Linked DNA regions of Homo sapiens: region 2 is linked to region 1. The links come from fine-mapping of genetic effects on gene expression. A gene starts in region 1. The other region holds a variant in brackets. All regions are shown on one strand. Distances are from middle to middle.

Region 1 (4,378 bases):
TCATCTTGGCCAGGCTGGTCTCGAATTCCTGATCTCAAGTGATCCGCCCACCTCTGCCTCCCAAAGTGCTTGAATTGCAGGCATGAGCCACCACACCTGGCCAATCAATTGTATTTCTATACACAATCCAAAATGAAATTAAGAAAATAATTCCATTTATAACAGTGTCAAAAAAGAATAAAATACTTATTAATAGATTTTTTTAAAAGAAGCATGAGATTTGTACACTGAAAAGTACAAAACATCATTGAAAGAAATTCAAGAAGACCTAAATAAATGGAAAGACATCTGTATTAGTCATGGTTCTCCAGAGAAACAGAACCAACAGGACACACACACACACAGTTTATTTTAAGGATTTGGTTCACCCAATTGTCGGGGCTGACAAGTTGGTGTGAAATTTGTAGGACAGACTGACGGGCTGGAAACTCGGAGAATTTCTGTGTTACAGTCTTGTTGTTGTTGTTGTTGAGATGGAGTCTCACTCTTGTCGCCCAGGCTGGAGTGCAGTGGCATGATATCAGCTCACTGCAACCACTGCCTCCTGGGTTCAAGCGATTCTCCTGCCTCAGCTTCCCGAGTAGCTGGGATTACAGATGCCCGCCACCATGCCCAACTAATTTTTGTATTTTTAGTAGAGACGGGGTTTCATCACGTTGGTCAGGCTGGTCTCGAACTCCTGACCTCAGGCGATCCGCCTGCCTTGGCCTCCCAAAGTGCTGGGATGACAGACATGAGCCACCGCGCCTGGCCTGTGTTACAGTCTTGAGGCAGAATTTCTGCTTCTCCAGGAAACCTCGGGTTTTGCTCTTAAAGCCATCCAACTAAATGGATGAGGCCCACACACATTATCAAGGGTGATCTCTTTTACTTAAAGTCAGTTGAGGGCCAGGCATGGTGGCTCATGCCTATAATCTCAGTGCTTTTTTTTTTTTAGACAGAGTCTTGCTCTATCTCCCAGGCTGGAGTGCAATGGCACGATCTTGGCTCACTGCAACCTCCCCCTCCCAGGTTCAAGAGATTCTCGGCCGGGCGCGGTGGCTCACGCCTGTAATCCCAGCACTTTGGGAGGCCGAGATGGGCGGATCACAAGGTCAGGAGATCGAGACCATCCTGGCTAACACGGTGAAACCTCGTCTCTACCAAAAATACAAAAAAATTAGCCGGGCGTGGTGGCGAGTGCCTGTAGTCCCAGCTACTTGGGAGGCTGAGACAGGAGAATGGCGTGAACCCGGGAGGCGGAGCTTGCAGTGAGCCGAGGTCACACCACTGCACTCCAGCCTTGGCGACAGAGCAAGACTTTGTCTAAAAAAAAAAAAAAAAAAAAAAAAAATTCTCCTGCTTCAGCCTCCTGAGTAGCTGGGACTACAGGCATATGACACCATGTCCGGCTAATTTTTGTATTTTTTGTAGAGATGGGGTTTTGCCATGTTGGCCAGGCTGGTCTCGAACTCCTGACCTCAGGTGATCCGCTCACTTCAGCCTTCCAAAATGCTGGGATTACAGGCTTGAGTCACTGCACCCAGCATATGCCAGTACTTTGGAAGGCTGAGGCAGGAGGATTACTTAAGCCCAGGAGTTCAAGACTAGCCTGGGCAGTGTAGCAAGACCCTGTCTCTCTCTACAAGAATAGGAAAAGTTAGCCAGGCGTGGTGGCACTTGCCTGTGGTCCCAGCTACCTGGGAGGCTGAGGCAGGAGGATCCCTTGAGCCCAGGAAGTCGAGGCTGCAGTGAGCCATGATCCAATGCCGCTACACTGCAGCCTGGGTGATAGAGCGCGACCTCAACTTGGGGGGAAAAATCTGTCTATCTATCTATCTCTCCATATATGTGTTTAATAAAAATGGGCAAATGACTTGAATAGACATTTCTTCAGAGATCATATACAAAAGGCCAGCAAGCACATGAAAAGATGCTGAACACCATTAGTCATCAGGGAAATGAAAAAGAAAACCTTAACGGGGCGCGGTGGCTCACACCTGTAGTCCCAGCACTTTGGGAGGCTGAGGCGGGAGCATCGTTTGAGCCTGGGGCGGTCGAGGCTGCAGTGAGCTATGATCTCACCACTGCACTCCAGCCCGGGTGACAGAGCGAGACCCTGTGTCAAAAGAAAACAAAAAAAGAAAAGGAAAAAGAAAGCAAGGGAAGGAAGAAAGCCCTCGGTTCAGGGTCGCCGGGGAAGGGGCTGGTTTGGACGGCTGTCCCGCAGGCCCTCCGGGTTAGAGACCGTCGGGGGCGTGTCTTGAGCTGGGGACGCGACTCCTCGGCGGGGGTGCACCTGAGAGGCCGGGACCAGCGAGGCCGCGCCCCGGTGGCAGGTGACCCCGGGCGCGTCTCCGAGCGCCAGGGTGGGGCGAGGCGGACGCGCGCCCCAGGCCCGAGGGGGTGTGGCGCGGGCGCGCGCGGGTTCCGGGGTCGCCCGAGGCGGCGGGCGGGGAGCCGGGGCGCGGGGGAGGCGCGCGCCGCGGACGCGGCCATCGAGCGAAGGGGGTCGGCTGGCCGGGCGGGTCCCCCTTCAGGTCGCGGGGGTCAGGGCTGCGCGCGAGGTCCCTGGCCCCGGGGAGCAGCGGCCCCGCCTGCGTCCCCTGCCGCCGCGTCCCCCTCGGCCGGGCGTCCCCGGACGCCCCCGCCCCGCGCGGTGGTACGGTCCGGGTTTAAAAGGCTCCGGCGGCCCCCGGGCCAGCCCAGTGTGTGGGCGGCGGCGGCGGCGGCTGCGCGCTTGGGGCCCGGGGCGCGGGGCGAGGCCGTGGGGACGTGCGAGCGGGGCCGCGGTGGGGCTCGGGGGCGCGTCCACGTGGCCAGAGGGCGGCCACCCGGAGCCAGCGGAGGGACAGGTAGGTGGCCGTCATCGTCGCCGTCCGTGCGGGGCCAAACAGCTCGGGGCCCGGGGCTCCGGCAGCCCGGGGGTCCGGCTCGGCCTGTGGGGGTCAGGCCCTATCCCTGCCCGTCGGCGCCGGCCTGCCCGACTCCTTGTGCCCCGCATGGTGGGGACGCCAACCCAAGACCAACACCCTGCCCAAAGAGGACCCTTTGTCGCAGGGGAGCGGCCCCTCGGAGGATCAACGCTGTACTTCCCTCCCGCTAAGGGCTCCGCGAGTCCGCCGAGGGGTGCCCTGATGGGGCCCGGGCAAACCGGACCAGCAGCACGGTGGGGGGTGTGGGGGGCGGCCGCTGGACCCCCGTCTCTGCGTGGGGCTGCCCCTTCCTCAGGCTCTCTGCTGGCCCAGCTGTACCTGTGATGCCCGAGGTTGCCACTTACAGGTGGGGGCTGGGCCTGAAACTGCCTCCCCAGGTCTCCCTCCCGACCTGTCCCCAGCCTGTTCCTAGGCTTGTGTTCCCGGGGTGTAGAGGAGGTGAAGACAGGATGTGGCCTCTCTTTTCTTTGGCCTTCCTTTCTTCTCCGGCTGTTGCATGAGGGGTCCAGCTGACAAAAGAGCCCTGGAGAGGTGATCAATCTGAGCTGAAACTTTGCAGTTTCAAGCTGGGCCCGCTGCTTGTTCCTGGCAAATGCCTTATTTTTCCTTTCTCTCTCCTGTGCCTCCTTGGTTTGGTTCCCTGCACCACCCCCCGCTCCCCCCCCGCCTCCCGCCCTCAAGCTGGGTACCTCCTATCTCCCCCGGGAGCTCTGGCACTGAGAGGGTAGCGCTGAGCCCTGCCCTGTTGGCTGCCACGACACTGCTCTGCTGTCTTAGCAGCCTGGGGCTGACTGGGTGTGGCCTGGGGACTAAGTGCCAGTCCCAGCACTGTCCCTGTGGCTCCTGCCCTGTCTCTCCAAGGCCTTGACTGTATTTGGGGACATTGCTCCTCCTCTTGTAAGGCTCCTGGGACTCCAAAGGGCAGGTAGGGCCCCCTGTACATTCCCTTCTCCAGTGAACCCCTGGGTCTGGAGGGGGAGCCATGCAGGCTGTGGCTGAGCAGAGCTTGACTGATGTGTGTCTGGGTGCGTGGCTGAGGGGCAGGCGCGACTTGGCTTTGTGTTGCATCGGGGAGGCCAGACAGCGGGCTCCTGGATGGCCAGCTGAGGCCCTTGTCGGGGAGGCAGCTGGGGCCCCTGCAGGGGACATGGTGGTGCTGGATCCTGCATCAGGCCTCCATTCCCCAGACCTCTGTCCCAGGGCTCCTGGTGGCAGTGCCACTCCAGGTGGTGTTCCTGGCCCTGCCCCTCTCCCCCAGCTTGCGATTATTCTGTGCCTGCCTCCCTCTCCCCTCAGCTCAGGCGTTGGGGGCAGCCCAGAGGCCTGGGGCTTGCTGTTCTTTGCTGTTGGTTGCCCCGGGCTCTGAGATGTGGCATCTGGGGTCCCAGTTCCAGCATCTGCTCTGCTACCCCCTTGGGTGTGGCCCAGCTGAGGCGAGGCCTCCTGGCTCCTTTCCAGCATGG
Region 2 (4,378 bases), 45 kb after region 1:
GGTTGGGGTCTGATCAGGTTGCCCAGGGTGAAATTATCTTAATACAATTATCTTAATACAAGTGAAGAAGCTGGCTGGGCACGGTGGCCACGCCTGTAATTCTAGCACTTTGAGAGGCCAAGATGAGTGGATCATGTGAGCTCAGGAGATAGAGACCAGCCTGAACAACATGATGAAACCCCATCTCTACAAAAATTAGCCAGGCGTGGTGGCAGGTGCCTGTGTTCCCAACTCCTTGGGAGGCTGAGGTGGGAGGATCGCTTGAGCCCAGGAGGTTGAGGCTGCAGTGAGCTGAGACTGCACCACTGCACTCCAGCCTGGGTGGCAGAGTGAGACCCTGTCTCAAAAAAAAAAAAAAAAAAAAAGAAGAAAAAGGCCAGGTGCGGTGGTTCACACCTGTAATCCCAGCACTTTGGGAGGCCGAGGCAGGCAGATCATGAGGTCAGGAGATCGAGACCATCCTGGCCAACATGATAAAATACAAAAAATTAGCCAGGCATGGTGGCGCATGCCTGTAGTCCCAGCTACTCGGGACGCTAAGGCAGTGGAATTCCTTGAACCCGGGAGGCAGAGGTTGCCGAGATCGTGCCAGCCTGGTGACAGAGCAAGACTCCGCCTCAAAAAAAAAAAAAAGAAGAAGAAGAAGAAAAAGCCAACAGAGTCAGCAGAGAGGAGGAAGAAAAGAAAAGCAGATAGAGAAGTTAGGCGCCTCTACATACCAGTGTTTTAGTTTTATTTATTTAATTTTATTTTTTATTTTAATTTTATTTTTTTGAAACAGGGTCTCACTCTGTTTCCCAGGCTGGCCTTGAATTCCTGGGCTCAAATAATCCTCCTGTCTTGGCCTCCAAAAGTGCTGGGATAACAGGCATGAGCCACCGTGCCCAGCCCCAATTCCTTTTAAAGGTGATTTTGTTTCGGGTCTCACTTATTTTTTTTTTCTTTTCTTTTCTTTTTTCTTTCTTTCTTTCTTTTTTTTTTTTCTGAGACAGCCTTGACCCCTGGGCTCAAGCCATCCTCCCACCTCAGCCTCCCTAGTAGCTGGGACTACAGGTGTGCACCACCACACCTGGCTAATTAATTTTTTTTTTTTTTTTTAGAGACAGGGTCTTGCTGTGTTGCCCAGGATGGTGTCAAATTCCTGGGCTCAAGTGATCCTCCTGCCTTGGACTCTCAAGTGCTGGGATGACAGGTGTGAGCCACCACGCCCAGCTGTAGGTCCCACTTCTGACTCTAGTTATGTCATCCTAAATAACAGGCTCTCTGAGAGAAAATGATATTTATTCTGGAATGCGTTGCAGTGGGAATGCATGTGCCATGGTAAACTGTATGGTAAACTGTGTGCATATACAGGGAGGCAAAAGAAGGCAAAGGTTTTTCAAGGAAAAGTGAAGAGGATCACCTAATTGTTTTGAGAGAATTCTCCTTGGCTACAAGGATCGATAACAAGGGTGACCTCAGTATGAGGTTGGACAGGGTTAGGGTTAAGTTGCTCAGCTGGGTGCGGTGACTCACGCCTATAATCCTAGCACTTTGGGAGGCTGAGGCGGGTGGATCACCTGAGGTCAGGAGTTCAAGAGCAGCCTGGCCAACAAGGTAAAACCCTGTCTCTACTAAAAACACAAAAATGAGCCAGGCGTGGTAGCGCATGCCTGTGATCCCAGCTACTCAGGAGGCTGAGGCAGGAGAATCGCTTGAACCTAGGAGGCGGAGGTTGTGGTGAGCCAAGATTGTGCCACTATACTCCAGCCTGGGTGACTGATCCAGACTCCGTTTCAGAAAAAAAAAAAAAAAAAAGTCAGCCGGGCACGGTAGCTCACGCCTTTAATCCCAGCACTTTGGGAGGCTGAGGCAGGTGGATCACTTGAAGTCAGGAGTTCAAGACCAGCCTGGCCAACATGGTGAAACCGTGTCTCTACTAAAAATACAAAAATTAGCTGGGTGTGGTGGTGCACACCTGCAATCCCAGCTACTTGGGAGGCTGAGGCAGAATCGCTTGAACCCAGGAGGCGGAGGTTGCAGTGAGCCGAGATTGCGCCACTGCGCTTCAGCCTGGGTAACAAGAGCGAAACTCCGTCTCAAAAAGTTGCTGGGCAGATGTCCTTGCAGTATTTTTTTTCTGTGGAAAGCTGTGGTTTCTGCATTTGCAGCCTTCCCCAGCTCTGTTTTTTGTTTTTTAACACAAGTGACTCCATTTTGATTCTGACAACTGTCATGGCAAGGAAGGCTGCCATGTTGGAAAATGAAGCCAATACAGAGAGAAAAACAAAGCCAAGAGGTGGAGAGAGCCCAAGTCCCTTGGGCTTCGGGGTCCATTACAGGAACAATGCATTCTGCCATCCTCCCTTTTTTTTTTTTTTTTTTTTTGCTTATGCCAGTTTGAGTTTGAATTCTGGCATTGTAAGTGAGGACATCCTAACTCCTAAAGGGCAGGCCCAGGGGGCGATACCCCTGGCAAAACAGGACCGTGGGATATGTCAAGCTTACCTCCTCTTTGGGAAGTCAGGCAGGCTGTGCTCCATGCCATCAGCTTCCTAGCCTGTGTTGGGCTGTGACACTGGTGACCCCAGTGAGGGTGCAGCCCCATGAAGAGGTAGAGGCTGTCACTGTGGCTCACTACGGTGTTCCTGGACCAGTTCAGGCACTTGGTGAATGTTTAGTGAACAAATGAGCTGAAGGAACAAATGGAGGAAGGCTGGG[C/A]AATCACAGCAGTTGCTGGAGAAGTGTCGGGGAGCCCAAGCCCCTCCCAGCCTGGCAGTATAGACACTCCGTGAGTTTCCGTTTCATTTAGGGGCAAGCTAGTAACCTCGTGGAATTGTACTTATCTGGCTTGTAGTCTTGCTACACCGGGAACTCTCCTATCCCCACTAGGGACCTTTACTTTTTTGTACAGTGGGGACAATGGCCACACTTACTGGCTAGGGTTGTGGTGAGGTGTTACCTATGGTATAACTGAGGTATTGATGCAAGAAGGAAGTTGAGATTTGTATCAACATATGGGACCATGTGGGTACAGATGAGACAGCACTGGTCACATGTCGATCACTAGAGGGATGAGCACATCAGAGTTGATGACAGTCATCTGTTGGTATCCGATAGGTATTTGTTCCAGGGCACCCTATAGCTGCCAAAGTCCAGGGATGCTCAAGTCCCTGATATAAAATGGATACATTATAGTTATACATATTTATTCCCATAGATTTTTTTTTCTTTTGAGATGGAGTCTCGCTCTGTCACCCAGGCTGGAGGGCAGTGGTGCAATCTCAGCTCACTGTAAGCTCCGCCTCCCGGGTTCAAGCGATTCTCCTGCTTCAGCCTCCCGAGTAACTGGGACTACAGGCGCCCGCCACCATGCTCAGCTAATTTTTCGTATTTTTAGTAGAGACGGGGTTTCACCGTGTTAGCCAGGATGGTCTTGATCTCCTGACCTCTTGATCTCCTGACCTTGTGATCCGCCCACCTCGGCCTCTCAAAGTGCTGGGATTACAGGCGTGAGCCACTGTGCGCCCAGCCCTTTTTTCTTTTTTTTTGAGACGGTGTGTCACTCTGTCGTCCAGGCTGGAGTGCAGTGGCGTGATCTCGGCTCACTGCAACCTCCACCTCCCAGGTTCAAGTGATTCTGCCTCAGCCTCCCGAGTAGCTGGGATCACAGGCATGCGCCAGCACGCCTGGCTAATTTTTGTGTTTTTAGTAGAGACAGGGTTTTACCATGTTGGCTAGGCTGGTCTGAAACTCCCGACTTCAGATTATCTGCCCACCTCGGTCTCCCAAAGTGCTGGGATTACAGGTGTGAGCCACCGTGCGCGGCCTGATTTTTTTTTTTTTTTTTTTTTGAGACAAAGTCTCGCTCTGTCACCCTGGCTGGAGTGCAGTGGCACAATCACGGCTCACTGCAGCCTCAACCTCCTGGACTGCAGCAATCTGCCTGCTTCAACCTCCGTAAGTGCTGGGATTACAGACATGAGCCACCAAGCCTGGTCCCATAGAATCTAAACCATCTTGAGATTATTTATCATGCTTAATACAATGTAAATGCTCTGCAAATAACAATTACACTGTATTGTGTGTGTGTGTTTTTTTTTTGATAGGATCTCACTCTGTTGCCCAGGCTGAAGTGCAGTGGTGTGATCTTGGCTCACTGCATCCTTGACCTCCTGGGCTCAAGTAATCCTGTCTCAGTCTCTCAAGTAGCTGGGACTACAGATGTGTGTCACCACGACTGGCTAATTTTATTTTTTTGTAGAGATGGGGTCTCGCTATTTTGCCTAGGCTGGTCTTGAATGCTTGGGCTCAAGTGATCTGCCCACTTTGGCCTCCCGAAGGCTGGGTTATAGGGCATGAGCCACCGTGCCAGCCTACACTGTATTTTTTTTTTTTT

What was found. PIP is the estimated chance that this variant, and not a neighbour inherited with it, causes the effect. A credible set is the group of variants that fine-mapping cannot tell apart.
Region 2: its variant is the best candidate, but not a certain one, in a credible set for the expression of PLXNA3 in esophagus mucosa (GTEx, PIP 0.51).

What each region holds. Positions count from the first base shown.
Region 1 is chrX:154,455,595-154,459,972 of GRCh38, forward strand. PLXNA3 (plexin A3) reads left to right here and starts at 2,687. Exons shown (of 33, transcript NM_017514.5): 1 at 2,687-2,834. RefSeq lists enhancers at 2,095-2,164, 3,590-4,142 and silencers at 2,255-2,424, 2,555-2,794, 3,035-3,104.
Region 2 is chrX:154,500,138-154,504,515 of GRCh38, forward strand. No RefSeq gene overlaps it. Among named protein-coding and RNA genes, the nearest start is that of SLC10A3, 12 kb to the left of the region's middle. The variant C/A (reference allele first, on the strand shown) is at 2,701.